7 linked regions of the Homo sapiens genome follow. The protein of the gene in region 1 purifies or fractionates together with the protein of each later gene. This does not show direct contact. Each region holds a gene or a part of one and is shown on either strand. Other genes may lie near its edges.

Region 1 (4,276 bases):
GATTTTGTTTATATAAATTGTAGTATGAAGCATGTATTCTCTTCACTAAAAGATGTATGTTTCTTCTTTTTATTTTAAGAATGGTTTCATCTTATTTAGTCCACCATGGGTACTGTGCCACAGCAGAGGCCTTTGCCAGATCTACAGACCAGACCGTTCTAGAAGAATTAGCTTCCATTAAGAATAGACAAAGTAAGGACACTGTGGTGCATGGCTAACATTTGTTTTCAGATTATAGATTTGGTTACTTTAATTTTTAGAAATTTTGTTTTTTTAATTAAAAAAATTTCAAATATATTAATTTAAAATGGATGCCTCTGAATTTTATTTTCACTGACATTTTTGAAGATCAGTTTAAAAATTCACATAGGACTATGTCAGAATTCTAATTCTAGAGAGATTTTACAGAAGTTTTTTGAAGGAATGTCTTTACCATTTTTTTCTTAAATGTTTTCTTAAGCTTTCAGGAAATAAACATTTAATAAAAAGATTTAAAAATAATAATAAAGTAGTCCTGATTAGTTGGAGGAGATAGTATGTGAAAGAAATGTAAATATCTTTGAATTTAAATGGCTAATACAGTATTGATCCATAAGTATTTATTATTTAGATCCTAGTGCTGGCCTCTGTGGCCAGAGATAAAACAGGTCCTGTATAACAATGGCAAGTCAGCATAACTGGTCCATAGTTAGCCATCCTAAAATTGGTGCTGTTTGTCCATCAGGGTGGGTATGACTTGACAAGAGTATAGAGATGAAAACAAAATAGATGGGTGAAATTAATGGGTGAAAACAACTATTTCATAGGTCAAATTGCTGTAATAGCACTGATTACATTGGGTTGTAGTTAATTGTGTGCTGTCCTTTTCTACTATTTTAATAAGCTCTGTTGAACAGAGATCACTTACTCATTTTGTATCCTTATCATCTAATTTAACATATAACAGATCAAGTGAATGCTCAACGAGTCTCTGTTAAATTGGAATCTTAGTCAAAAGCTAGCATTTTTCAGTCCTTTGTTCAGAAGATTATGTTTGATAAGGCATTTTAGTATCCCTTTAAAACAGTCTTTTTAATCTCAGTGTTTGAAACTTCAATATTGCATAATAGGTATTTTAACTATATTACTCGTATGTTCGTGATTTTAAAAAAAAAATTTGTGACCGTACTTGTTTTTCTAATTTTCTAGTATGTCTGAAATGTTTCCTGGATTGCCTAATGGAAACTATGATGTTAGAGAAAGAAATTGAAATTAATCATAATTTATTTAAAGATTTCTTACTAACTTTCTTTTCTGAGGTCACTAAGTTTATGTTTTATCTACTTTTGTAAAAGTTAATCGTTTGCTTTCTTTTACTGAATAGGAATTCAGAAATTGGTATTAGCAGGAAGAATGGGAGAAGCCATTGAAACAACACAACAGTTATACCCAAGTTTACTTGAAAGAAATCCTAATCTCCTTTTCACATTAAAGTGAGTTTGCATAATAAAATGCTATATTTGTTATATATTATAAATATTTGTCAAGTTATGTAATAAAAGACATTTTCGTGCTTTTGTAATTTTAGTTTTTTTCGTTTTTCAAGTATATACAATTTTGTAATGTCATTTAAGCAACATGTTATGAAAAATACTTTTGTGTTAAGGACCATAAGCAGAAGGTGTCTTTTGCTATGTATTTGCTTTTATTATTCTATTTATGTGTTTAAAAATGTGAAAATCTTATTTAGAAGATGGGTGTCTATTTTTCCTTCTCAGAAGTACCTTACATTTAATCTCTCTGGCATTTTAAAAAATTGTGGTAAAATATACATAAAATTTACCATTTTTTACATTCACATCATTGTGCAACCATCACCACCATCCGACTCCAGAACTTCTCCATCTTCCCAAACTGAAACTCTCTATTAAACACTAACCATCCATTCATCCCCCTAGCCCCTGGAAACCACCATTCTACATTTTGCCTCTATGAATTTGACTACCCATATAAGTAGAATCAGAGTATTTATTCTTCATTACTGGCTTATTTTAGTGTAATAGCCTTAAGGTTCATCTTTATTGTAGTATGTATCAGAATTTTCTTCCTTTTAAAGGCTGAATTTTACTCCATTGTTTGGATAATACTGCATTTTGTTTATCCATTCATCCACTGATGGACACTTAAAGTTTGCTTCTACCTCTTGGCTGTTATGAATAATTCTGCTGTGAACATAGGTGTACAAATATCTGAGTCCCTGCATTAGATTTTTTTGGTTATATACCCAGAAGTGAACTTTCTGGATCATATGGTAATTCTATGTTTAACTATTTTTTTTTAATAATAGCCATCCTGATTTGACAATTTTAATTGGTTTTATGAATCTTTGTTACTTAAAAAATGAGATGTTACTGAGCTTCAGATTTCAACTTGTTAAGCAACAGATATCCTTTGTAAGTCAAATGACAGAATTGTTTTGCTTTAGAATAAGAATTTTAAATGAGGCCCATTTTGGTTAAGAGGTTGGGAATGGGACGGGTGGGGAGAAAGGCTACGCTTTATATGTATCTCATATACATAAAATCATGTCCTTAGGCACAATTTGATTTGCTACCAAGCGCAAATGTTATTTTGATTAAATTACTTGTAGCCAAAAAAATGGGGTTCATATCTTCTTATAGGTAAATTTCCATTTGGTAAATCCTGATTAAAGGGGGTAATATTATTATAGTGTCTATTACATTGTACTCTCATTTTTCTGGAAATTCTAAAATTCTAAGCATTAAAGCATAGGACACCATATTTAATATTTTTAGCTTACTAAAGACCAATCCTACTGATAAATCAAAGTTTTAAAAATATTTTTAGAAATCTGTTGCTATTAAATAAAAGGCCATTTGAAGATTGTGTCTAAGTAAATTTTTCTTTTCTCCTTTAGAGTGCGTCAGTTTATAGAAATGGTGAATGGTACAGATAGTGAAGTACGATGTTTGGGAGGCCGAAGTCCAAAGTCTCAAGACAGTTATCCTGTTAGTCCTCGACCTTTTAGTAGTCCAAGTATGAGCCCCAGCCATGGAATGAATATCCACAATTTAGCATCAGGCAAAGGAAGCACCGCACATTTTTCAGGTGAGATTTAACTTATGACATTATTTTTAGATTTTTCCTCTTTATAATCTTAAACCTTTTTCCTTTTGAAAATCTGTATATTTCCAGCTGGGCACGGTGGCTCACGCTTGTAATCCCAGCACTTTGGGAGGCCAGGGTGGGCGGATCACGAGGTCAGGAGTTCGAGACCAGCCTGGCCAACATGGTGATAACCCCATCTCTACTAAAAATACAAAAATCAGCTGGGCATGGTGGCAGGTGCCTGTAGTCCCAGCTACTCGGGAGGCTGAGGCAGGAGAATTGCTTGAATCCTGGAGGCAGAGGTTGCAGTGAGCTGAGATCACGTCACTGCACTCCAGCCTGGGTGACAGAGGGACACTCCATTTGTCTCAGAAAATCTGTATATTTCCTTTGTAGCTGTTTTCAAATGTGTATACTTAAGATTTTTCTGGGTGAAAAATTGTAGGTTCAGATTGACATGTTCTCAGTACCAGGAAGTCACTTGAAGAACAGCTGTCTGAGAATAGGTTATTAGCAGACCTTCCTAAATGAAAGTCAGCATTCACAATGAGTAGTCACCAGAATTAAATTATTGATTTTTAATAGTGAAAAGGTAATTGTGTGTTTTAATAAAATATAAATTTAAAGGTGATGTGGCTGTGATACCTTATGCCACTGGTTACCACATCTAGCTGGGCTGCCGCTGCCTCCCTCCTCTCCCCCCACCCCCAACCTTTCCCAACCAAGCCTCTTGCAAAAGTCAGCTCTGCCTAGTTCGTTTTCTCCCATCCGTTTGTTGGCTCACCAGTCTTACTCTCTGTGACTTTGGGCTTTCTCTTAATTAAAATTCTCTCCTTTCTTGGCTTTTGTGACATCACTTCTACAGGTTTTTTTGGTTTTGTTTTTGTTTCTTTTTAAAGAGTTGGAGTCTCGCAATGTTTCTGATGCTGGTCTCAAACTCCTGGCCTCAAGCACTGCTCCTGCCTCAGCCTCCCAAAGTGCTGGGCTTACAGGTGTGAGCTACCGTGCCCAGCCACAGATTTATTTCTGATGCTTCTCAGTCTTCTGTTTGCCCATCTCTTTAATTCTGCATTTCCCAAGATGTTATCTTTGTACATTTAACATTCTTAAACAAGTCAGATAGTGTCTCCTTTCCTTTCATGAAGTAACACCATTGCTTTTTCTTATT
Region 2 (3,500 bases), on another chromosome or scaffold:
CGCCTTCAAACTGACGTTCCGTCCCAATGACTGTCACAACTGTGCAAGAATCGTACGCTGGTACAAGAATGGAAGAAGACAGCCTGCAGGAGGCCACATTCACAATGATGAAGACCTCGAGTGGTCGCCTCTGAGCCTGGGCAGCCCATGGGATGGTCCTGGGTGGTGGCAGGTGGGGCTATCCTTCCCTTACCACTCAGGGAGACGGCAGGACTGTCCCTCGGAGAGTTTGTCAAGGAGTCGGCCACTGCTGCTGACAGTGCCTTCTGCTTCATGGCACGGAGCATTTCAACAAGTCTCTCTTTGTCTATGAGAAAAGCAGCCTGAGATTAACGAGCCAGTTGCATCATTTTTTGGAGAGAAGGACAGCGGGATTCTAGCCGAGCCTTGAGGGGCAGGCAAAGCACTAAAGCCCGAAAAACCAAAAGCAGGTGTGATGGGGCAGGCCCAGTTGAAAGGAAGCAACCATCTCAAAGCGAGCCCAGATTGCTCTCGGCATCCACTACACAATGTCCTAGACGTGCTCCAAAGACAGCTGTCCGTGCGGTGACGACGCCTCTGTGAATCACTGTGCCCACGGACCTCGGTGGTGACGTGCGAGGATGTATTCTTATTTCAAGTCAGACAAGGTGGCCCCAACACAAAGAAACACCCCAAAGACCCAGGCCTGGCCTCTGAGGCAGGGTGCCTTCTCCCCCACTCCTACCATTACTGCCACTTCCTGAAGGGGAAAGATGACCCCACGATGTTCCACGCAGCAGATCCCTGATGTCACCCGGCCCTTCTTGACTGTGAAACTCAAGGGCTGCATCGCCCTTAATTTTTTTTCCTCCAAAAATTCAGGGAAAAAGATGCTTTGTATCTAGGGAACTGGGCTGGCAATCAACACGTCACTAGCCCGCTAAGAGAAAGGGAAAACTACTGACTGGTTAAAAGGAGAAAGTAAACGGCTACACCCTGATCAACACCTTGAAGCTGCTCAAGGTCCAAGAAGTAACTCTGCTTTCCTTCGACTTTCTCCCAGAGAGGAGGCCAGGGGCCCACGAGGACTTGAAAGCGTGCGTAAGGGGCAGGGCCAGGAACGTCAACATCTGGGCACCAAGCCAGCCTGCGCTGCAGGCCAAGGAAGCCAAAACCCTGAGCAGGTGTTGTGGCTGCGTTGTTTCTTCTGCTATATGGATTCGAGCCCAGAGGGTCTGTCCCAATGTGGCCCTGTGTGGCCAGACTGAACTGGAAGCATCTTTCAAGGCAAGCCATCTGCTCAGTGTGTGCTGCCCTGCTTGGCAGCCCTTCCCCAGGCCTCCGGCCACCAGGACACAACACCCAGCAGACCACCTAAGCGGTCCAGCAAGAGGAAAAGCCTGCAGCAGACAAACCTGGAACACCTGGCACCTCCCCTCACGCCTGGTGGTCACTGGAGCACTCGGCTCAAAGAGCGCCTTCTCGGGCGCTGGGAGATGGATGAGTGACATGGGTAGTCCTCAGGTCAAGATGGTGGGGCTCTCAGAGCAAAGCCTGTCAGGTAAGGCTGCTATGGAGGGCTTGTAAGAACAGAGAGGCTGTTCCCGGGAGCCGGGAGGAGTAAAGGGGCAGCCTCAGGCTCAGTGATCGCAGATCCTGCCTGGAGTCCACCGGCCCCACCTGCTGCTTCAGAAACCCACTTCCACCCCAGTGAGCCCCCACCTTCCTACCCAGGCGAGGCCCTACCTTTCCTCTTCTCAGCGCTGATGTGGGTCAGGTTGAAGATGGTCAGGAACTTCTTCTTTTCTTCGAAGTTGGGACTGTTGTTCATCTCATCAGGGCTGTAGCGGGTAGACAGCGCCAGTCTCGGTGAAGGCGTCTGCCGCTTGCTCTGAATTGTTGGGGGCGACGGGCTTCTCTCTCGCAGCATCCTCCGCCGCTTCCTCCGCTTCTGGGCCACCAATTCCTCCTTCTGCTGTTGGGTGGTCAAGCCAAAAAGTTGCAAAAACTCTAGCTTCTAGATTGGGAAAGAAAACAAATGAGTTTGAAGCCACTGGCAGTGGTATGCTTGCACTGTCCCGGGGTCCCCTCCTGGGGTCCTCGAAGTGTGGGCCGTAGCTGGCTGCGCCTGGTGGGAGAAGAGCTTCATGGGGCGAACCCGCCAGGACTTCGGAGGAACCTAGCAACAGTGGGGTGGACTGCAGGGTGTGGACGCTAGGAACGAGAGCCCAGCCCAGAGCATGTCCGTGGGGAGGAGAGCCCAGTACCTCAGAGGACGTGTCCAGTTTGAGGGGCGGCTGCTCGGCCACGCAACGGAGGTGGGCCCTGACCTCCTCCTCATCGCTCTCGTCGTAAGAGTCATCGAGGTCGTAGTAGTACCCTGATGGAGAAATGGTTGTATTCAGCCAGACAAAGAGCCTTCATCTGTCCAGTGGACATGCCCGCAGGGCCTCATGTGTGCAGAGCACCTATCAGGCCAGGCCTGCTGGCACCTGAACACCCTGAAGGCCAGTTCCTTTCAACCGAGGTGGAAACCAACATTAACCCAGTCCTGGGGCTTTGCAGGACCGCAGACACCAGGCTTCCCTGGGATCCATGGCTCCCAGTAGCTGGGTGGTCCCCTGGGCTGACAAGACCTCCCTCCTCCCCCTGGCAGGGAACCATTCATCACACAGGCCTGGGGCTGTGTCCACGGCAACACAGGGCTGCTTGTGCACATGCACTCCCCCATGCTGTGGCCATCTGAGTCCATCTCCTGGGAGGAGACAGGCACACACAGGCCTGAGCTCTCTAAGACACAGAGAACAATAGCAGAGCCCCTGCCCAGGGGCGCTGGGGTATCTCCCTCCTCCTTTACAAAGTGAGTAGGGGAGAGAAATTTGGCTGGGCCCTCCATCCAGCCTAGACCAACAACCAGGAAGACCGCCTGTGCCCCAGCTTCTATTGAAGAGGAGGCTGAGCTCAGCACTGGACAGGACCTGAGTGTTCAGCATCAGGAAGAAAACTGGGCTGGAGCCCCTGCTCCCCTCTGCACACTCTCGCCTGCTCGGTTGCTCTTCCTGGCTCTCTGGAGAACTCAGGGAGCCGCTGGCTGAGGACGCCCCACCCCCAAGCAGAAATAAGAATGAAGTGCCTGACCTCCTACCCTGACCCGGGGCAGTGCCAGCCGCCGCGTCCTCAACCCCTGACCCACCTGCTGCAGCTCGTGGCAGCGGCCCTGTATGTGGAGCCCCCGCTGAGCCCAGGCCGGCTCTCCTGTTATGCTGCACTATTAATATTTAAAACTATCTTATTAGCCTCCGCTCATCACTTATTCATCATGCTTGTCTGCGGAACTATCTTCACAGGCGGGCTTTGATTTGGCTTTTTGGGACAATTTGCATCGAGGCAGGACAGGCACGGGGACTAGGGTCTGCCTCCCCTACGAGGGTGTCATGCTGCTACAAAGAAGCCAGTGCACTTGCCACCTGGGGCCTGGGACTACCCCAGGCAAAAAGCAGGAGTGGACGGAGAGGGGCAGGTGGCTGGCATGCAGGCTC
Region 3 (4,276 bases), on another chromosome or scaffold:
GAGGAAGTATAGAAAGGATTTGATTCTCTTTTAGCCATGGTGGGGCCGCCAGTTTCCCCACTTTCCCATCAAAGCAAAAATTGAGAAGGATGTGGAAAGGGTGGGTGGAGTTTAAAGCTGGCCCTTCCTCCTTCAGTGGAAGTTCAGCAAAATGACAAACCAGATAGGTGGCTAAATTTCCTTCTCTTGATGGGAGATTCCAGTATTTGTACGTTTTGTGCTTGTAGCTTGGATTCTCCAGGCCTCCTCCCAGCTTTCATCAAACATGAGTGAGTCACTGAAGTGTTGTCTATGCATTTTCTCCCTTCTGTCTCTGCAAAGGGAAGAGTAAGCCTTTACAAACCTGTGGGGGAGGAAGTCACCCTCTTCCCACTGCTGGAGAGCCAGGCTATCCCCAGGTTAACCCTGAAAGTGCTAACTCCTGAGCAGAATGTTACTGCCACCCGCCCCCTTCCTTTTTGTTATAGGCCATTGAAGGTCATTGCTCGTCTTTTTTTTTGAGACAGTCTTGCTCTGGTCACCCAGGCTGGAGTGCAGTGGCAGGATCTCAGCTCACTGCAACCTCCACCTACTGGGTTCAAGCGATTCTCATGCCTCAGTCTTCCAAATAACCAGGATTACAGGTGCGCACCTCCATGCCTGGCCACTTTTTGTATTTTTAGTAGAGATAGGGTTTCACCATGTTGGCCAGGCTGGTCTTGAACTCCTGGACTCAAGTGATCCGCCTGCCGTGGCCTCTCAAAGTACTGGGATTACAGGAGTGAGCCACCGCGCCCGGCATCATTGCTTATCTTTTAGACTGAGATAGTACAGCTGATTCTAAACAGCACCCAGAGAGAATCTGGCCTCTTGATTTCCAGTTGTGTCTCAGAGGAGGAGGCATCCCAGTTCCTCCTCTTGCCCTCTAGACATCTCCTCCTCTGATAAGTATAAATAGGCTAGATCCCTTTATCTTCATATCTGTTTTTGTCTGGAATGTTTCAAGTTTCTCAAGCTAGGTGTGGTGGCTCATATCTGTAATCCCAGCACTTCGGGAGGCCACGGCAGGAGGATCACTTGAGCCCAGGAGTTCAAGACCAGCCTGAGCAACATAGTGAGACCTCATTTCTACAAAAAAAAAATTTTTTTTTTGAGACGGAGTCTTGCTCTGTTGCCCAGGCTGGAGTGCAGTGGTGCGATCTCAGCTCACTGCAACCTCCGCCTCCCGGATTCAAGTGATTCTCCTGTCTCAGCCTCTTGAATAGCTGAGATTACAGGTGTACGCCACTGTACCCCGCTAATTTTTGTATTTTTAGTAGAGATGGGGTTTCACCATGTTGGTCAGGCTGGCCTTGAACTCATGACCTCGTGATCTGCCTCAGCCTCCCAAAGTGCTAGGATTATAGGCATGAGTCACCCCGCCTGGCCAAAAAAAATTTTTTTTTTTTTTTTGAGACGTTGTCTTGCCCTGTCGCCCAGGCTGGAGTGCAGTGGCACGATCTCGGCTCACTGCAAGGTCCGCCTCCCGGATTCACGCCATTCTCCTGCCTCAGCCTCCCGAGTAGCTGGGACTACAGGTGCCCGCCACCACACCCGGCTAATTTTTTTGTATTTTCAGTAGAGACGGGGTTTCACCTTGTTAGCCAGGATGGTCTCGATCTTCTGACCTCGTGATCCACCCACCTCGGCCTCCCAAAGTGCTGGGATTACAGGCGGGAGCCACCGCGCCCAGCCCAAAAAAATTTTTAAAAAGTTACCTGGGTGTGGTAGCACATGCGTGTATCCCACCTACTCAGAAGGCTGAGATGTGAGGATCACTTGAGCCTGGGAAGTTGAGGCTGCAGTGAGCTGTGATCATGCCACTGCATTCCAGCCTGGGCAACAGAGTGAGACCCCATCTCAAGATAAATAAGGTTTGTCAGTCCCTGTGGTGGTTCTTTCCGCAGATGTCTGTCTTTGGGTTGGCACTTATTTCCCCCTACTTGCAGTTATTCCTTACATTTCTCATTAGAAAATGGCAAAAAGGGCAAAAGTAAATTCATTTCCTTTTTACACCAAATCATTAATTTTAGGCTTATAAAACTAAATGAACAGAAGATTTGGTAGGAGAGGAGGGGAGATGGACACTGATACTGGTGGCTAGGTGATCCTGAGGGACAACTGGTGCCTGGCAGAAAGAGAGGAGGGCTGTGTTCAGTGACTGGCTCCCAGCCACCTTTTTGGCCTTTTTCTTTTTAACATGAGGAAGGCGGAGCAGACCAGGGGCTTCTCTGTAGAACCAGTCAAGCTGGTTTTGGGCAGCCTTGGCCTATTTTCTTGTGTGCTCTTTGGGAAGTTGGCAATACAAAGGTCTGCCTCCTTTGGGGCTGTGTTCGTTGAGGCGAAAGTTTGGAAGACAACTATCTGTCAACAACCCCCTTCTCCCCAAACACTGAATGGGTCTCTGAGCTGGTCCTTCACTCCAGGGAGGAGGCTTTCTCTCCACCCTATGCTGAACCTGAAGGCAGCTTTGCTTTATACACCTTTCACTGAAAGCTCTAAGACATTAACTCCTTTTTTGGACTCCCTTCCCAATTCACAACTTGGTGAAAGACCCTCAGCCTAGCCAGGAGGAAGGGACTGGGTCTGCCTTTGGCTCCTCATTTATGGGTCTGGGAGGGGATCAGGACTCCTTACTGCTATGATCTGGCTGCTAAATTCAGTGACATCCCAGGCCTTTTTTCGTCCACGCAATGGGACTGTCTGTCCAGGCCTGCTGGGAAAGAAAAGAGAGAAAAAATAGTTTTTGCTCTTTGGCAGCTTACAGGGACTTCAGCCATAGGAAACAACCTGTAGGAAAGGTGGGAGCTTCCGGTCACCATGTGTGCTGACACTTCCTGCAATAGCACTAGGAAGTCTTTCTCAGGGAGCAAGGCCAGCCAGGTAGGATTATTTCCCAGTCTCCCAGCTAAGCAGGAAATGCCAAAATATGAACGTTTAGTAATTAGTGAGTGTAACTACCTGCTGACAGAGCTCCAGCCTAGACCTTGTCCTTGGGGGCTGGTTGCCCCTGTTGATACTACAGTGAGCTACTCATTGCTTCTGATTACCATTTCAGTATGAGTTTTGCTTTGGTTTCTGATATCCCATGTGCGGCTGCCTTTTTTCTCCACCTTCTTTTTGTTGTGTCTTTTTGTTTTTTTGAGACGGAGTCTTGCTCTGTTGCCCAGGCTGGAGTACAGTGGCACAATCTCAGCTCACTGCAACCTCCGCTTCCCAGGTTCAAGCAATTCTGCCTTAGCCTCCCAAGTAGCTGGTACTACAGGCATGTGCCAGCACACCCGGCTAATTTTTTTTTTTTTTTTTTTGAGACAGGGTCTCGCTCTGTCGCCCAGGCTGGAGTGCAGTGGCGCGATCTCAGCTCACTGCAAGCTCTGCCTCCCGGGTTCACACCATTCTCCTGCCTCAGCCTCCCGAGTAGCTGGGACTTCAGGCGCCCACCACCATGCCCAGCTAATTTTTTGTACTTTTTTTTTTTTTAAAGTAGAGATGAGGTTTCACCATGTTAGCCAGGATGGTCTCAATCTCCTGACCTCATGATCCACCCACCTCGGCCTCCCAAAGTGCTGGGATTACAGGCGTGAGCCACCGTGCCCGGCTGTAACACCTGGCTAATTTTTGTATTTTTAGTAGAGATGGGATTTCACCATGTTGGCCAGGATGGTCTCGATCTCCTGACCTCGTGATCCGCCCGCCTCGGCTTCCCAAAGTGCTGAGATTGCAGGCGTGAGCCACCGCGCCTGACCTTGTTGGTGTTTTTAAGAGACAGGGTCTCACCCTGTCACCCAGGCTAGTATGCAGTGGTGTGATCATAGCCCACTGCGGCCTCAAATAGCTCCTAGGCTCAAGTGATTCTCCCACCTTAGCTTCCAGAGTACTGGGACTACAGGTCACACCTGGCCCCCTCAACCTTCTGGACTTTTCACTCACCCCATCACTCCCTACTTCTCCGCCACAGAAGACTGTCATTGGCTATCTTTGCAAGTAGTATTGAAGCCACTCGGAGATTGTTGCTTTGTCTTTTTGCTCATGAAAGTTTGAATTACTGGTTCTCCAGTCACAGGAAGTGGGGCTCCTTAGGCCAGCTCCATCTCACGTAGTGTACTGATTATGTTGAGCTTATGGCACAGCTGAGAGGAGAGTCCAAACTTTTTGAACACTTTTTGACTTCCAATAAGTGGTTCCACTATGGTTAAGAGCAGGTTTGGTGGGCCGGGCGCGGTGGCTCATGCCTGTAATCCCAGCACTTTGGGAGGCC
Region 4 (4,276 bases), on another chromosome or scaffold:
TGTCTACTAAAAATACAAAAATTAGCGGGGTGTGGTGGCACATGCCTGTAGTCCCAGCTACTCAGGAGGTTGAGGCAGGAGAATTGCTTGAACCCGGGAGGTGGAGGTTGCAGTGAGCGGAAATCCTGCCAGTGCACCCCAGCCGGGGCAACAGAGTGAGACTCCGTCTCAAAAAAAAAAAAAAAAAAAAAAAAGACTGGCAGAGCAACTGGAATGAGTCAGCCTGCTAAACGCTGCAGGCCAAGGGAGGTGACTTTTCTAAGGGAATTAAGTAGGCAGTGCTGCTTTGCCTATCCTGAATGTCAAACCATTCTTAAAAAATAGACATACTGCTGGAGTATAATGACTAGCCTCTGTTTCTTCTCTTTCATCCTCCTACTTACTAGTCAATCATAATATTTATTAAAGTCTGACAGTTGCATGGCTCTGTGTAGGCTTTGTGGGAGGGTATGAAGGAGCAAAAGACACGAATCACTTGTGCAGCGCATAAGGAGGTGTCAGTTGAGGGTAACTCCTGTGAAAGTTCAGAAGAGGGAGGGTGTGGAATTTCGCCTGTATCCCGGTGGCCAGGGTAGTGCCAGCCATCTAGCTGGTGATCGATAAATGTTGAGAGAAGGACTGTGATGAACACCGTGGCAGGGGCACTATTTTGAGCATGTTTGAGAGAGAGGAGGTGGCTACCCTGCCAATGGCAGAGTCACATGTAGGAAATTGTGAGAGAGGGTGGGTTGGAAGTTGAGGCCAAAATAGGGAAGGTCTTGAATCCAGGTTAATTCTCTGTGCTTCTCCCTGCCCCTCACTTAGTCCCTTCTTTTTGCTTCTCACCCCTTCTCCATCACAGCTATGTATATAGATCACTTTCTTCTTTGGGGCTCAGTTTTCCCACCCACACAATGAGAAGAGGGCTCCATCCAGACTTTTAAGAATCCTCATGGCTCTAAAATAATTGAAATAGTGACTTCTCTGTTTTTTATTTCATATTTTATATTTCGTAGAGACAGGGTCTCACTCTGTCACCAGGCTGGAGCGTAGTGGTGTGATCATAGCTCACTGCAGCCTTGAACTCCTGGCCTCAAGTGTTCCTCTTGCCTCAGCCTCACAAGTAGCTGGGACCACAGGCATGCACAAGCACGTCCAGCTATTTATTTATTTTTAAAATTTTTGGTAGAGACAGGGTCTTGCTGTGTTGCTCAGGCTGGTCTCAAACTCCTGGGCTCAAGCAGTCCTCCTGCCTTGGCCTCTCAAAGTGCTGGGATTACAGATGTGAGCCACTGCGCCTGGCTGACCACTTTTCTTTTAATTTAGTAGTGTAATCAAACTATAATTTAATGTGTCATATTTATGGTGCACTTATTACGTGCCAGGCACTATGCAAAGCATTTGAAAATGCATCATCTGCTGACTCTCACAACAACCCCAAGAGGTAAGTACTATTATCAGCCCTCTTTGACAGATGAGAAAAGTGAGAGGCTAAGTAACTGAGCGGTGATATAGCTAGTTAGTGGCTGGGCTAGGATCCAAACTGTTGTCTAACTCCTGGAACACTATTAACCACTCCACTATTTAGCCTAGTACATAGTAGGTGCCCAATAAATGTTCCATTGACTTGAGACTCAGAACATGGCCAGAACAGTGTTAGATTTGCCATAGAATGTGGCCACTCTGTCTGTATCTTTGGGGTGGCCAGTAAATAAATTATTTTGCATTGAGGAACCAGTTGTGTTTGGTTCTCTGACAGCCTAAGTTTGAACCCTTTTATAACTCTTGGTTACTTGTTGGGGGGTGGAGTTTGGTTCATAGCAGGGAAGTATACTTACAGTATTCATAATTACTGTTCACTATGGGTCAGCCATGCTATTAAATGCTTTATAGCCATGATTTCTGTTCTCCCAGCCACCCTCTGAGGCAGGTATCATTTAGTAGTACCATTTTGCAGATGGGGCAGCTGAGGACTGGCTGTGTAACTCATTCAAGGTCACACACAGACCATAAGTTGTGTAGCTGGAGTTGGGTGCCCACCTGTCTCTTGTTCTCCAGATGTTCTTGTTATTGGAGAATGGCTCAAATCTTCTGAATGACTGTAGCACAGGCAGAGAGGCAGGCCTGTCCTTACCCAGAGGATTCAGCAGGCACAAGTGGGTCCTGGGCTTCAGAAAGTGTTGGCAGTTCATCTCTAGGCCCTCTGAAGAGCCTGTGTTGCCCTGGCAGATCCAGCGTGATATAAAGCAATGGTAGGAGTAGGCTTAGGCCTGGTAGGGACAGTTTAATGAGACTAGGACCTATTTGTGGAAGAGTGAGCTCCCTGGTCATATTTCTTTGTTTTCTTGTCTAGATTCTCTGGCTAAGGAGTCAGGGCTTCAGGAGTTGGCAGTCTCTCTTCCAGGTACTCAGGGCACTTTGAAGTCAGTGCCCCTGCCTGAGCATATCACATACTGGTTGAGAGCTCAGGTTCTGAAATCAAGCATTTTGGGATTTTAACGTTTGAGCCTACCACTTACCAGTTTCCTCATTAGTAAAATGGAGATCACTGGGAGATACCAACTCATGAGATTATGGTGAGGGTGTAATGAGATGATGTGTCTGAAGTCCTTTGTATAGTTATTGGTCCATCACAAGTGTCCGGTTGAATGTCAACCACTGCTAACACCCAGTCCCCCCACCCTAGGGTGTAACCTTGAGGGCAAGGATCCTAGCCATTATTTCATCTCTGGCATCTTGCCTGTTGCCTACCACTTAGTGGGCATCCCACATTTGTTGGGGGAACAGATATTTCCAATGCATATTGATGATAATGAATTATTTGCACATAAAGATGCACAACTCATAGTCCCCTCAGTAGGGGAACACCATGTTCTTTTTTATAGTGTTGGGGGTTGGATATAATTTCTGTTCTAGTCTCCTTCCTAACCATTTGTGAAGAGCCAGCGCAGGTCAGGGCTGACAGGGATCAGAGGAGACATGGACCAGCTCATCAGGCTTTGCTTGAATTCCCTCATTATGTGATTCCATCAAAAAACACTGGATGAAAGCCTGCCATGTTGAAGGTACTGTGCTCACCTGCTCACACCTCTGTTCTGAGTGCTATGCTTAGAACAGGCAGACAGTGTGATTTAATAACGTAGTTTCAGAGATGGGCTCTCTCCAGTACCTTCACAGAGTGTCCTTTAAGACTCAGGTTGTATTTGGTTGGGCAGGGAAATTGTCTAGTATTCTGGAGCCCCTGAGAACCTTATTCTAATCTGCCTTAAAACAGACTGATGGAGCTAGACAGCACTTTAGAGACCTATTTGCTATTGGATGAGGAGCCTGGGACTCGGAAAGTGAATGTGACTCTTCATGCTTACAGAGCTGGCTACTGGTGGGGCTGGCACGAGAGCTGAGGGATGTTGTTCACATCCCACTTCAGTTTATCCTCCTGCCTTTTGGCATGGGTTGAGGATATTTCTAGGAATCTGCAGACTTACCAGGTGCTTCAGAAGAAATGGGAAATAATCACGATGATAATAGCTGCCATGTATTGAGTGTTCACTATGTGCTGGGCACAGTTTAAGTACTTGATATATTATTAATTCACTTAATCTTCATACAGACAATCATATGAGTCCGGTACTGTTTTCCCATCCTTCAGCTGAGGAAACCAAGGTACAGATAGGCTAAATAACTTCCCCAAGATCACACTGCTGGAAAGTGTTAAAGTTATGATTTGAACCTAGGCAGTCTGGCTCCAGAGACCGTGCTGTTTTATTTTTTAACTTTTTATCATGGCAGTGTTCAAGTGTAAACAAAAAAAGAATATAATGAACCTCAGTTTCAAGAATTACTGATGTTTTGCCATTCTTTTTTCATTCCATCGGCACTCTTCCCCTCTGCCACTTTTTTTTTTTGGCTGGAGTTAGAAGTCTGACTGTGAACCACTCTCTTGCCCTATGCGTGCCCAGCCTGGTCTCCCTTCTTCTCCAGATGCTGTTGGTGTTGCATGGCCATAGCACAGGCAGAGAGGTTGTCCTGTCCTGAAGCCAGAAAATTTACTAGGCAGAAGTGGGTCCAGGGCTTCAGAAAATGTTGGCAGTTCAGCTTTAGGGCCTCTAAAGAGCCTGTGTTGTCCTGGCAGATCCAGGGGATAGTGAATTAGGAATTAGTTTTAAAATGAGGCCAGGCGCGGTGGCTCACGCCTGTAATCCCAGCACTTTGGGAGGCCGAGGCGGGCGGATCACGAGGTCAGGAGATCGAGACCATCCCGGCTAAAACGGTGAAACCCCGTCTCTACTAAAAAATA
Region 5 (4,276 bases), on another chromosome or scaffold:
CTAAGGCATTTCCCTCAATAAATCTCTTACACTTCAACTTCCATCTTAGCATATGTCTTCCAGAAGACCTGAACTGACACAGAGCCCACCAGTAAATCCTGAAAACTTGCTGCAAAAACATCCTGGCAGAGAGGAAAGGGCCAGTTTCTCATCCACCTGGGAATTTTGCTATTGTCAATTACATCATCCACAGTGATACTGAGGCCTTGGGGAAATAAGAACCATAATGGTTTGCATTTTAAATGCCTTTAGGGCAGAGTTACAGAGTAATATATTCTGACATAACAAGAGAAAAAAAGGGTCACAAAAAGTCAGGGGCATATTCTCTGAGTAACAGCCATGAGAAATCTCCATCCCTGTAGAAAGAAACAGAGACATCTCTATTTTTATTTTGTTTTGTTTTTGAGAGAGGGTCTTACTCTGTCACCCAGGCTGGAGTGCAGTGGTGGGATCTCGGCTCACTGCAGCCTCGACCTCCAGGGTTCAAGCAATCTTTCCACCTCAGCTCCTGAGTAGCTGGGACTACAGGCACCTGCCACCATGCTCGACTGATTTTTATATTTTTTGTAGATACAGGGTCATGCCCAGCCAATTTATGTATTTTTTTTTGTAGAGACAGGGTTTCACCATGTTGCCCAAGCTGGTCTTGAACTCCTGGGCTCAAGCGATCTGCCTGCCTTGGCCTCCCAAAGTGCTGGGATTACAGGCATAAGCCACTGTGCCTGGCTGAGATAACTCTATTTAATGACTTCTAGTACTACTGCAAGGAAAGTCAAGTCTCGGGAGGGCAGCTCTTGGGACTGGCTGTAAGAACACGTACCTGATAATTTCTGAGCCAGGTTTCAGACAGCCTGAGGTTGATGACCCCTCCCCTCTCCCGCAGTTTTGTGTAGCATTCCAACAGAGGCTGCAGACAACAACAGAATTCTGTTAAGAACTACTTCCTGGGATGCAGTTTAAGAATCAACATTCAGACATAAGAATTCCTGCCCATTCCATTCCAGTATTACCTCTTTGTACTGACAGTAGACCACAAACGGCCTTGAAGGGGCCACAAAGTCCAGCAAAGACAGCAGCAGGGGAGTGGGGTGGAAACGACTAGCTACAATTAAACTGTAAGGAAAATGCCAGACAAATTATTTCTCTACACCCTCAAAGTGGAGCACAGGTTTTAAAATGCATTTAAAATGATCATGTATTTAATTTGCATGACTCACAAAGAGAAGAGATTTAAATATAACATTCTAGAAATCCAAAACAGAATACAATCATGAGCTATTTCTTTCTAGGAAACGCGAACTAGGTTAGAAGCTCTTGTGGTACTTGGCAACTCTAAGTCGCATTTAATGACATTCTTGATTTTTTAAAAAAAATCACCTGGAAACAAATCCAACACTGCATAAGCTGCTTTGTGGATATCTGTTATAGCCTGTATCGCAGCATTTGAGTGCCCCATCCCCTGCATCCAGTGGGACCACAGGGCCCATCTTGATGCAGTGATGGAGAAGATTCAATTTCTTCTGAAACCCTGAAACCAGCATCATCAATTCCCCACCCCTGCCAGCCTCAGCCTCCTTTCTTTAAAAAAACCCCCAAGACAAAATCCTCATCTCGGGTCCCACTAGAGTCAAAGCAGACAAGGAGAAAGAGAATGCCAATCTGTCTGAAGCAGAGCCCACATGCACTGAGGAGTCTCCTGCCTTCTTCCATCAACGCACCCATCTGCGTTTCTTTCACTCAGCAGAGCGGCAGCCTCTAAATGTCTTTTCCTCTGCTCTTCTTGTCTCCTCTGTTTTTCCTGAATCTTCAAAAAGAAAAATAAGAAATCAATGTACTGGGGTCTTTCAGTCAAATTTATGGAAATGCTCTGGCCTGTCAAAACATTTCAACAATATTTATCAACTTGGACTAAACCAATAGAAGCAGGTTGTTTATAAGGAAGTTGCAAATACACAAGAAAGCCTATATACTATAAAAACCATGATTAAGCTATCTATGCAACGCTTCTGTATCCTAAAGCTCCATCCCGAAGACCGAATCACACGTTTGTATACATGTACACACACTCGTTCTCTGTTTTGATAGTTATCATCTTGGGAGCTAATACACCAAAGCCAAACTAAATCTCATGACTTAACTGAAGTTAACTGAGGGACTGAGATTATGGGGGTGGTGGGGACTCTTGGCATCCTTACATAATCTTTTTTGCTTCCTCTCTCTTTAGGCCCCTTATGTTCTGGATCTTGAGAAATTGTTTCCATTGTTTCCTGGTCTTCTGGGTGGTTGCTCTCTGGGGCCTCTGCCATGCTGTCTTCATTCTCTTGTTCAGAAGCCTGTTTTTCCTCCAGTGTGCCATTACTTTCTTCAACCAAAGCACTGTCTTTTGGCTCTGAAGATAACATCTTGGCAGAAAATGTTCCATGTAGAAGACTGTCCACTTTGTTGAGAGGGAATTCATAAAGACCACTGAGAAAAGATTTGGGAAATCCAAAACATGCTGTTGCTGCCCGAACAGGTCCTCCTCCAGGGTATAGCTGAATAATGGAGCCAAAACCTGAACAGATAAAAGAAACAAACATCTGCCCGTGGAGTGACTCTAGACTACGTAAACCCTCAGTGAGTCCTCCACAGTAATGAGACTGAAGGTCTTTCTATTAGTACTTTATTCAGAGGCTGAAGGATGGTGCAGCTCCTCAGGGAGTCTGTTTGGAGTCTATGAGTATTACCAATGGAGGTAATATAATTCTAAAGCAGATAGCAGGAAGACTCAAAGAAGCTTATCCCCACTTGATACTATTGTAAAACCCTGTGTCTGCAAATTTGGATGTCACATGATTGGTGACGGACTCTGCTTCCCCTCACTCCGATCCTCAAATGGAGCAGTTACAAGTTCTTACCTTCTATGGGGTCAGAAAAAAACCAGACAAATCAGGCTGTGTTGTATTCTTCCAGAGAGAATACATGCTTAGTAATCTTCCCACTCAATCCCTTCAATTTAGGCCCAATGAAATGAGCACCAGCTACCCAGGAGTTTACTAAAATCACTGTCCCGAAAGCCCTAGCCAGCCACAGGCTCCAGCATCATGCCCACTGACAGTGAAGCTAGAAAGGACAATTGCCATGGGTTTGGGGGTACCCATGGGTGGGGGGCTGGGTGATGGAGACTGTGTAAGAAGGTCCCCATGCTAGGAGCCGTGCAGGTTCACCCAAGTCACTTTGTTAACCCTGAAGTAATTCAATTTGGCTTTCCATGAGTTTACATTTTTGGACCACCTTTACTCACATCAGGGTGGGGTTTTGTTGAAAATGGAAATATTAAATCTTACCTCCCATTCGTTCCATCATTGCACCCAGCACCAAGCCTGCACACGTTTCCATCACAATCATTTTGTTGCCAGCACGGATATTTCCCAACGTCAACATCTGGGCTAGTGTATCGTATCTCATGTGGCTAAAGTAAAAACAATAATTTGTTCATTTTTAGCTAAGTAAAGCCTATTATTTTAATCATCATTTTTCAAGTTTTGTTTGCTTTATTAAAATTGTGTTGATAAGATTATTGATTGCTTTGGAGGTGACAGTAAAAGGACTTACAATTTATGAGGTAGGAGGATACTTTATGCAGGTGAGCAAGCTTTTTCATTTTACTTAAAATCATGACTTTCTTAAAGACATATTTCCCCCAATTATACTTTTGAAAGGAAACAAAGCGTACTTAATTTTTCCAGGTTCTCTTGCATAATACATAATTGAAAGAATACGGGTGGATGGCTTCACAACAGTAATGATGGCTTCATATCTGGGGGAAGAAAAAACAGAACGCTGATTTAAAAAAATGACTTAAAATATTTTATTTGTAATAAAATGTATATTTTATAAACATATAAGAAGTTTAATATTGTGGGCCTTTTAAAATAAAAACTACTTACTTTTTTTTCTTCTTTTTAATATATTTATCTTGGGCAAATTCTGTCTTGTCTCGGAATGTTGTACTATTTTCAATTAACTGCTGAACTATTTCCTATAAGAAAAGGAGCAAGTAGATTTTCTGAAACTTTACTTTCACAAAACAAGTAATTTCCAAAGGCTTCTTACCCAAGAATGGATCCAATGGTCTGATTCTCCAATCCCTTTTCCACAGAAGTCCAAATAGATGAACTTTATATTTCTATACTCTATTTGGAATTTATAATAAAATACAAGTACTTTATAACTCCACTTAAACCAACGTAAAAGAACAGAGATATCCAACAAAAGGAGAAGAGAGGTAAAGGAA
Region 6 (4,276 bases), on another chromosome or scaffold:
AGTAGAGACAGGGTTTCATCATATGAGCCAGGATGGTCTCGATCTCCTGACCTCATGATCCACCCGCCTTGGCCTCCCAAAATGCTGGGATTACAGGCGTGAGCCACCACGCCCGGCCCAGTATCTCAGTTCTCACACCTCCTTTCCTATTCCCTCACTTCACTAGCACATGTTTGTGTACTGGCTTCTTTCCTCCCACTTGGTTCAGCCCCATTGTTAGGATTTAGGCCTGTGTTTCTGTGTGTGTATGGGATTTAGGTGTGTGTGTTGTTTCAAATTCTGTTTTCTCCTTCAAACTTTTCTTGTTTCCTCTAACTTCCTTTAACCCTCATGGCTCTCTATACTTGTGTTATGTGCTTAGCTGATCTGACCTAGGGGTTTTGAGGTAATTCAAGGGCTCACACTCTTTGGTTGTAATGTCTTTGTGGACATACACAGTCTAGTTTCCATCTTTATATCCAACCCCATACCACCTATCATGATACCTTTGCCTTGAGAAGGTATTCCACAAATGATTATTTTATGGAATCTATTCAAAGTTGACCTGAAATAACTGAGAATTTGAACAAAAAGAATTTTCTGATGTACTCTTTTACATGTGTTTGGTTTTTTACTAAATCAAGGAAATGTTGGTTACCTTAAAACATAGAGAAAAGATTCAGATTCACAGGTCAAATAGACGTTATTACCATCTATGAATTATAAAGTGAGAAGCATAGTAAATATTTACATTTTATTCTTCAGATAAATCCTATATAAATGTAATTATATATGACATTCTATGCTCTAATTAGGATGAAATGTTATGTTGTTTTGCTGGAGAAACTTTGTATGTATTCTTTGTATTTTAAATCATAATAATATTGTAAACTTTTCATATTAGCAGACATTTGTATAATTACTTCTCTCTTTCTTTGCCTGTGTGCCCAGCTATCAATATCATGAAATTCCTGTGCTTCTTTTTTTCTCTATTTTATAGCTTCTCTATCCTTAACAGTTACCAAAGAGAATTTGGACAGTAACCTGAAACATTAGATCTCACATTTTCTAGTCAGTCATCTGAATAGGTGTCAGTCATCTGACTCATTTCATCACTATGAATTTTGCTGGCCAAACTATATGTAGCATTTTTGTCTTCAGTAAACTTGATAGTTGCAGTCAGAAAAGATGTAGATTTAGTCTGTATCATAGAACCTGCTGCTGATTATTTGAGAAGTGAAGGTGTTTATTCAGATACATTAGTGTGATATGAATTTCTGTAATTTCTGTGATTTGCAAAAAGAAGTGAGTCTCTGTATTTCCCTGTTACAGGATTAGACACATGTTAAACCAAACAAAAAAAAGGAGTGAGTAGATGGAGAGCCAGCAGTTGTTTCTTAAAAGGTTATACAGTAGGTTCTGTAAATCCATGTGTTGGTATGGCCACAGCAGGATAAAGCTCCTTTAGTAAGCGTGTTGACCCAATTAATGTCCCTTACTTCATCCATTTTTATTTTTCACTGAATAATATGTTTCCTAAATTAGATAATTTTAGAACAATTGCAGTATAAAAGAACTGATTTGAAAGTTTTAAAACTGTTTTTAAACACTGTTACCCAGTAATTTTCTTACATATAACTTCTTAGTATAATAGAAGTTCAGAAAAATAGCACTATGGGTGAAAAGCAGCCGCAGAAGGAGCCCATGGAAAGGAGTAATTGAATCAGGACTTAAAAATGACCTAGGTTTTGTGGGCATCTCAGGGTGGGTAAAATGGCTTGAGCAGAGGTATGAGTAAGTTTTTAATAAAAGAGCAAATATCTTGCAGTGTCTAAAGACCATAGATCCTAAATACATACTTATTTCCCTTTACTTATCCTATGAGGAGTAAAACACTGAGACTCAGTGATCCTCTCAACTGACCACCTCATTTTGCCAGTGAGGAAAGTGACTTGCCTAAGACAGTATATAGAATGGAAAGAATTTACCCAGAATCACTTACTGAATTAAATTAGAGGCAGAATTGTGACAGAAACCCAGGCCTTCTGTGTCATAGTCTAACATTCTTGACAGCACAGTGCCATGCTACATAGCATAAATTACAGCGTTGAAAGTAAAAATGGGCCTCGTTGCCCAAGGTGTCAGCAAAATGTGTTGCCAGTTAAGTAAACTATTTGGTTTGTGTATAGTAAAGAAACCTATTGTATTCCTAAATGAAACTTGGATCCCTAAGTCATTGTTACCAAGGCAGGTACTGGAGAGGGCATATTAGAGCTAAAGAAATGCTGACCTGAAAGCCATTCTGCATAGCAGTGGGGCACTTCAGGCTGGTACACAATGTTAAGAGCATTTCCCAAAGTAAAAGTCTCTTGAGAGAAGCACATATCACACTCTTTGAAATTCTGGCCCTGAGCCTAGATCACAGCAAAATAGGTTCAGTTCAAAAGGGCCTCTTTTCTCTTAACCTCCACTCAATATATAGAATGGAAACCAAAGTGAAGAATATTCTTGCTCCTCTCAAATCGAAAGCCAGCCCACTAGACCCAAGAGTTAGCGAGTATTACTCTCAAGAAAGTGTCTATATCTCATGTGAAAACTAAGATAGAAACAATAATTTTGTTTCTCCTTTAATTTATGAGAAATGACAGAATGACACTCAGCTTGAACAAATTAGACCCTTTCAGTGAAAGGGTAATCAGATCCTTATGATTTTAATCCTTTGAGCTATCCTTGGAGCAGCTTAAGTACACCCAAGCCCCCAGAAGGATCCTCTCCATGCCGTGAAATGTGCTCAGTAATGGAAGAGCGCTGATGGTTTTTATTACCACTCTTCCATTAAGTAGAATTTCTCTGTTACCTTTCAGAGACTGAACAGTTTCATTGAATTGCTTTAATGTTTCTTATTTTGTGCTCTGAGAATCTGTACCAAGGGGCAGTGTGTTAATGCACCTATGTGGTGCTGTCCTCTGCCCTTACATAATTAGCTTGATTTGGACTGCTCTGGCAAAGAAGAGAAAAGATTACCAGTCTGAGGAGAGTCAAGACTTTGGAGGAGAGGGATCTTTGTACCATGGTAATGGGAGCCAAGCGTCTCCACTTTACCCATCTAACTGGCAGATATTGAGACGTATAGCTTAGGTAACTGATCTCATGTAACTGCAGTTAAGTTGGAGATTGAATAAGATAGGATGATAATGTCCTAAGTCTTTATGCTGTCATCTGTGGACTTATGTTTATATCTGTTATGCCTTGTGCATGTTGGGATTGTGTGTCATTAAGTTTTGTTTTCCTGCAGCAGCCCAGTAACAGTTAAAGCATATGGGAAGCCAGCAAATTTGAGAGAAAGCCACTGCGAAATATGGCTAAGATTCCTTCTGGAACCAGCCTTTCTTGTTCATACATTAGTTTCCATTGAAATCCCCTAGGAACTGGCTCGAGGTAGAGCTTTGCATGTTGAAACTTGGGACTTTCGATTGATAATTTTGTTGTTCATTTTCAAATTATTCTGGGAAACTTTGCTTTCTTTTGTTAGGAAGAAAAATACAAGTAGAAATTAAGTGCTCTGAAATTACATAGCTTTTCAGTGTCTTTCTTGCTCAGCTGCCATTGGCAGGTGGTTCACACAGCCCAGCCCCCTTACTAGGCGGCCACCGTTATGAATACAGGAGCTCGGGTGTCAGATTTCCCTCTTAAGCTGTGAACTGCTTAGCTTTTCTACTGGGCACCAAGTCATTTTTGTGTTCAAAGATTTAAAAAACTAGTGGAGGCTGGGCACGGTGGCTCAAGCCTGTAATCCCAGCACTTTGGGAGGCCAAGGCAGGTGGATCACCTGAGGTCAGGAGTTCAAGACCAGCCTGGCCAACATGGCGAAACCCCGTCTCTACTAAAAAAATACAGAAAATTAGCCAGGCATGGTGGTGGGCACCTGTAATCCCAGTGACTTGGGAGGCTGAGGCAGGAGAATTGCTTGAACCTGGGAGACAGAGGTTGCAGTGAGCTGAGATCGTGCCACTGTACTCCACCCTGGGCAACAGAGAGGGACTCCCTCTCAGAAAAAAAAAAAAAAAAAAAAAAAAAAGCTAGTGGTGACAAGAGTAGGAAAGATACATTCTGTCTAGCTTTAAACAATTGTTTATAGGAATGAAATCTAGGTATTATGTTTGCATGTTTTTCATGTTATAAAGGTCCTGGGATCTTAAGATTTCACTAGCAGTTTCTTCATTTCTCACTTCCTGCCATTTTACCACCTTTGTTATGGAAAATTTTGAACATTATGCCAACACACTTAAAATTAATA
Region 7 (3,950 bases), on another chromosome or scaffold:
TGGTGTGCAATGACGTGATCTTGGCTCACTGCAACCTCTGCCTCCTGGGTTCAAGCAATTCTCCTGCCTTAGCATCCCGAGTAGCTGGGATTACAGGCGTCTGCCACCACGCCCAGCTAATTTTTTTTTTTTTTTTTCTGAGACGGAGTCTTGCTCTGTCACCCAGGCTGGAGTGCAATGGTGCGATCTCGGCTCACTGCAACCTCTGCCTCCCAGGTTCAAGCAATTCCTGTATCTCAGCCTCCCGAGTAGCTGGAATTACAGGCACGCGCCACCACACCCAGCTAATTTTTGGGTTTTTTGGGTTTTTTTTTTAAATGGAGTCTCGCTGTGTCACCCAGGCTGCAGTGCAGTGGTGCGATTTCAGCTCACTGCAACCTCAGCCTCCCGGGTTCATACGATTCTCTTACCTCAGCCTCCTGAGTAGCTGGGATTACAGGCATGTGCCACCATGCCCAGCTAATTTTTGTATTTTTAGTAAAGACGGAGTTTCACCATGTTGGCCAGGCTGGTCTCGAACTCCTGACCTTAGGTGATCCACCTGCCTCAGCCTCCAAAAATGCCGGCATTACAGACGTGAGCCACCGCACCTGGCCTTTTTTGGTATTTTTAGTAGAGATGGTGTTTCACCATGTTGGCCGGGATGGTCTCGATCTCCTGACCTCACGATCCACCCGCCTCAGCCTCCCAAAGTGCTGGGATTACAGGAGTGAGTCACCATGCCCGGCCCAATTTTTATATTTTTAGCAGAGATGGGATTTAACCATGTTGGCCAGGCTGGTCTTGAACTCCTGACCTCAGGTGATCTGCCTGCCTCAGCCTCCCAAAGTGCTGGGATTACAGGCATGAGCCACCGCACCCGGCTAATTTTTTTATTTTTTGTAGAGACAGGGTCTCTACAAAACTCTACCTAAACTTCTGGGCTCAAGCAATCCTCCCATCTCAGCGTCCCAAAGTGCTAGGATTACAGGCATGAGCCACTGCAGCTAGCCACCAGACCTGTATTCTAATGCTCTATTTCTTTTAGTTGGTATTCCAATTCGTTTCCAAATCTCTGGTTATCTTTCATAGTTAAAGGGCAGTCAATATGTATTTCTGGAGAATTTACAATGTGAAAGCCACCAATTTAAAACAACATAGTGAAACATAAGGATGGATAAAGATTTGGTCACTTTCCTCAAGAACTTTTGGGAAATATGTGGGATACATACAGGAAAAATGAACTAATTTTATATAGACATGCATAACAAATGTCAATCAAATGATGAAGATAGCCACTGAAACTAGATAACGGTACATTCGGGTTGTCAGGAAAGACATAAACTAGGCCTTGACCGCTGGACAGGATTGGGATGCAAAAGACAAGAATTTCAAAAGAAGCCTTTTTTAAAATACCTGCTTGGTTTTCTGCTTACACTCTAGGTAACTTCAGTAGTCAAATTCACAGAGCGAAAGTAGAATGGTAGTTGCCGGGAGTGGAAGGAGAGAGGAATGAGAAGTGAGTGTTTAATGGGCACAGAGTTTCAGTCTGGGACAATGAAAAGTTCTGGAGATGGATGATGGTGACAGCTGCAAAACGATGTAAATATACTTAATGTCACAGAGCTATATACTTAAAAATGGTTAAAATGATAAACGTTATGTGTATTTTAGCACAATAAAAGTGTTAGCTGAAATGGCAAGTTTACCTTAGTGATAAGGTCAGAGAGGTAGATTCTGCTTTCTAAGGCTATACAAAATAAGTCTCATTCTTTTGTCGAATGTCAGCCTTCGAATACTGCCACCTTAGCCTCTTCAGCTGATTTCTTTTTTCCAGGTCAAATGTCTCCAGTAATAATTTTACCTGGGCATTTTTTCAGCACCTTGTGATCCTCTGAGTGTTTCAGGATGTTTTTTCTTTTCCTTTTTTTTTTTTTTTTTTTTTGGAGGGCAGGGGGCTGGGAGGAGGAAAGACTACAACTCCTCTACAGGCTCCTTGAGAGCAGAGACCATTTCTTTACTTATTTAGTTTAACCTCCTTGGTACTCAGCAAAGAGTATGGTACAAATTAGGTTCAATAAACACCTGCGGATTGAATGAAAATACTGACAGTAAAGGCTATTAATAATGCAACCCACACGATCTCCATCACTGACAAATCCTGGCAAGTCTCAGTGACACTTTTCCTTAAGCCTCTACAGACTAGTTATTGAGGTCTGTAAACCTAAGATCGCTTTCCCCAGGATTCTTGCACAGGGGACGGGGTGACAGAAGCAACACATATTCAAAGCAATCATTTTTTCTTAATCATCTTCTAAGAGGGCCAATGAAAACGAAATGGCAAGCGTCACTGCTTCAGGAGAGAAAGAACAGATTCCATGGTGATGGGAGCTTGAGTCTGCCCATCTGAGATTCAGGCGCCAACGGGAAGGGCTGAGGGGCCACGCGGAGGAGAGGCCCAAAGCCCAGGGCCATCTTTCTCCAGGTCGGGAGGGTGGAGGTGGAAACGGTCCCTGAGCGACCCCAGAGGGCCGAGGGCGGCGCGAAGGGAGGCCCTCGGATGCTCCGGCCCGGTTCTGACAGGCCATCATCAGGGACAGACAGTTCCCCTCCCCGCCCAAGCCGGCGCAGCCCAAAAGGAGGCGCGGCCCATGCTCAGCGCACCTTTTGCCTCTCCTTCTTCTGGCTCTCGGACTCCTCCAAGGGTGCTTCCAGCTCCATAATGTCCCCCCAGAGGAGTTTCCCAGGCATTACTGGCCACCGCCGCCTCCCTCCGGGCACAGTGGCCACAACCACCTACGGGCAGCGACAGCGTGAAAGGAAGCGGGGGCAAGGCGGCCGCCCGGCCTTGGCCATGCGTCACTTCCGGGACACGCACCGCACGGCGGGGAAAAATAATCCCGGATACTCTCGGTTTAAGACCTTCCATTGCGCCGCAACCTCTCAACCAATGAGTGTGAGAGATATCAACGGGCCCGCCCTTGTTCTGAAGTGATTGGTTACTAGAGTAAAACCCTGGCCAATCTCCATAAAGGAAGCATGCACTGATTAACATAAATAGTTCGGTTTATCTTCCCCTCCCCCACTCCGAACGGGTCTCCTCGGCCTCGCAGAGCCTTTTGGGGGCTTCCCAGTACGCACTGCTAGGGCTGGGAAGCCCTTCAACGGCGGTAGACAGGGTCCGGCGCGCGCTGGGCGGGTGCGTGGGCAGGCCCATGCCGAGGCCAGTGGGCAACGCCGCGCGCCGCCTCGCCATTTGCAGCCGGAAGCTGAAGCCCTCCATCCCGCCCATTGCGGGGGAGATGTTAACGACCAACAGCTTCGCGCGAGGCCACAGGCCTGGCGTCGGTGGAGAGGGGCTTCGCGCAGTTTGGGGTGGGCCAGATGGGCCGGAGGTGTAGCCAGGAACGGACAGATGTCCGTCTCTTAAGTCTTAGGTTTTAATCGTGAAGCTGATCCCTGGTTCATTGTGATCCTTCTCACGCTGTCCATTTGACATAAGAAACCCGAGAAAGGAATGTACTTGTCTGAAGTCCCACAGTCTGTTAGTGGCACAGTCAGGACTAGAGAATTTAGCTCCTGAAGCCGAGATCAATGCTCTTTCTGCCACATCAGCCTGAGAACTTTGAGTTTTGCAGTGTTTTGGGGAAGATGCTCCCGTGAAACAATGAACAGGAAAAACCTGAAGAAGCCTCACATTTTCTGCTAGCGAGAAAAGCCAAAATGTCTTCCACAGATTATCTATTTGCAATGAATAAAAAAGGATTTAATTTTAGTGATGGAGATTAACTGCCCGTGAATCACCACCTTACACAAAACTGAAACCTTTGACAATACAAAGGGTAACTTCCTTAGTGTTTCTATACCTTTGCTTACTATCACCGAGGCTAGTTGGCTTTTCACAGCCATTTCTTCATCTCTTCATGATCCTTGCGACCCAGCTACTCTACCCAATGGAGACACAGGGCTAC

What was found.
Region 2: the proteins of RANBP9 (region 1) and GSE1 purify together in Homo sapiens (affinity purification with mass spectrometry, with the first as the bait; 2 studies listed by BioGRID). This does not show direct contact.
Region 3: the proteins of RANBP9 (region 1) and MARK2 purify together in Homo sapiens (affinity purification with mass spectrometry, with the first as the bait; 2 studies listed by BioGRID). This does not show direct contact.
Region 4: the proteins of RANBP9 (region 1) and CKAP4 purify together in Homo sapiens (affinity purification with mass spectrometry, with the first as the bait; 2 studies listed by BioGRID). This does not show direct contact.
Region 5: the proteins of RANBP9 (region 1) and TRMT6 purify together in Homo sapiens (affinity purification with mass spectrometry, with the first as the bait; one large-scale study listed by BioGRID). This does not show direct contact.
Region 6: the proteins of RANBP9 (region 1) and HMG20A purify together in Homo sapiens (affinity purification with mass spectrometry, with the first as the bait; 2 studies listed by BioGRID). This does not show direct contact.
Region 7: the proteins of RANBP9 (region 1) and DDX50 purify together in Homo sapiens (affinity purification with mass spectrometry; 2 studies listed by BioGRID and IntAct, with this or other methods). This does not show direct contact.

Annotation. Positions count from the first base shown.
Region 1 is NC_000006.12:13,638,395-13,642,670, reverse strand, and holds part of RANBP9 (ran-binding protein 9), read left to right. Parts: intron 1-79; coding exon 80-192; intron 193-1,363; coding exon 1,364-1,472; intron 1,473-2,917; coding exon 2,918-3,108; intron 3,109-4,276. UniProt on the Homo sapiens protein: May act as scaffolding protein, and as adapter protein to couple membrane receptors to intracellular signaling pathways. Acts as a mediator of cell spreading and actin cytoskeleton rearrangement.
Region 2 is NC_000016.10:85,661,822-85,665,321, reverse strand, and holds part of GSE1 (genetic suppressor element 1), read right to left. Parts: intron 2,342-3,500; coding exon 2,229-2,341; intron 1,979-2,228; coding exon 1,708-1,978; intron 308-1,707; coding exon 194-307; intron 1-193.
Region 3 is NC_000011.10:63,845,243-63,849,518, forward strand, and holds part of MARK2 (serine/threonine-protein kinase MARK2), read left to right. Parts: intron 1-4,276. UniProt on the Homo sapiens protein: Serine/threonine-protein kinase. Involved in cell polarity and microtubule dynamics regulation. Phosphorylates CRTC2/TORC2, DCX, HDAC7, KIF13B, MAP2, MAP4 and RAB11FIP2. Phosphorylates the microtubule-associated protein MAPT/TAU.
Region 4 is NC_000012.12:106,241,507-106,245,782, reverse strand, and holds part of CKAP4 (cytoskeleton-associated protein 4), read left to right. Parts: intron 1-4,276. UniProt on the Homo sapiens protein: Mediates the anchoring of the endoplasmic reticulum to microtubules. High-affinity epithelial cell surface receptor for the FZD8-related low molecular weight sialoglycopeptide APF/antiproliferative factor.
Region 5 is NC_000020.11:5,940,233-5,944,508, forward strand, and holds part of TRMT6 (tRNA (adenine(58)-N(1))-methyltransferase non-catalytic subunit TRM6), read right to left. Parts: intron 4,022-4,276; coding exon 3,930-4,021; intron 3,800-3,929; coding exon 3,716-3,799; intron 3,452-3,715; coding exon 3,327-3,451; intron 2,555-3,326; coding exon 2,196-2,554; intron 1,805-2,195; coding exon 1,719-1,804; intron 1,114-1,718; coding exon 1,011-1,113; intron 908-1,010; coding exon 821-907; intron 1-820. UniProt on the Homo sapiens protein: Substrate-binding subunit of tRNA (adenine-N(1)-)-methyltransferase, which catalyzes the formation of N(1)-methyladenine at position 58 (m1A58) in initiator methionyl-tRNA.
Region 6 is NC_000015.10:77,472,456-77,476,731, forward strand, and holds part of HMG20A (high mobility group protein 20A), read left to right. Parts: intron 1-4,276. UniProt on the Homo sapiens protein: Plays a role in neuronal differentiation as chromatin-associated protein. Acts as inhibitor of HMG20B. Overcomes the repressive effects of the neuronal silencer REST and induces the activation of neuronal-specific genes.
Region 7 is NC_000010.11:68,900,165-68,904,114, reverse strand, and holds the start of DDX50 (ATP-dependent RNA helicase DDX50), read right to left. Parts: upstream 2,801-3,950; 5' UTR 2,731-2,800; coding exon 2,644-2,730; intron 2,060-2,643; exon of another isoform or gene 1,689-2,059; intron 1-1,688. UniProt on the Homo sapiens protein: ATP-dependent RNA helicase that may play a role in various aspects of RNA metabolism including pre-mRNA splicing or ribosomal RNA production.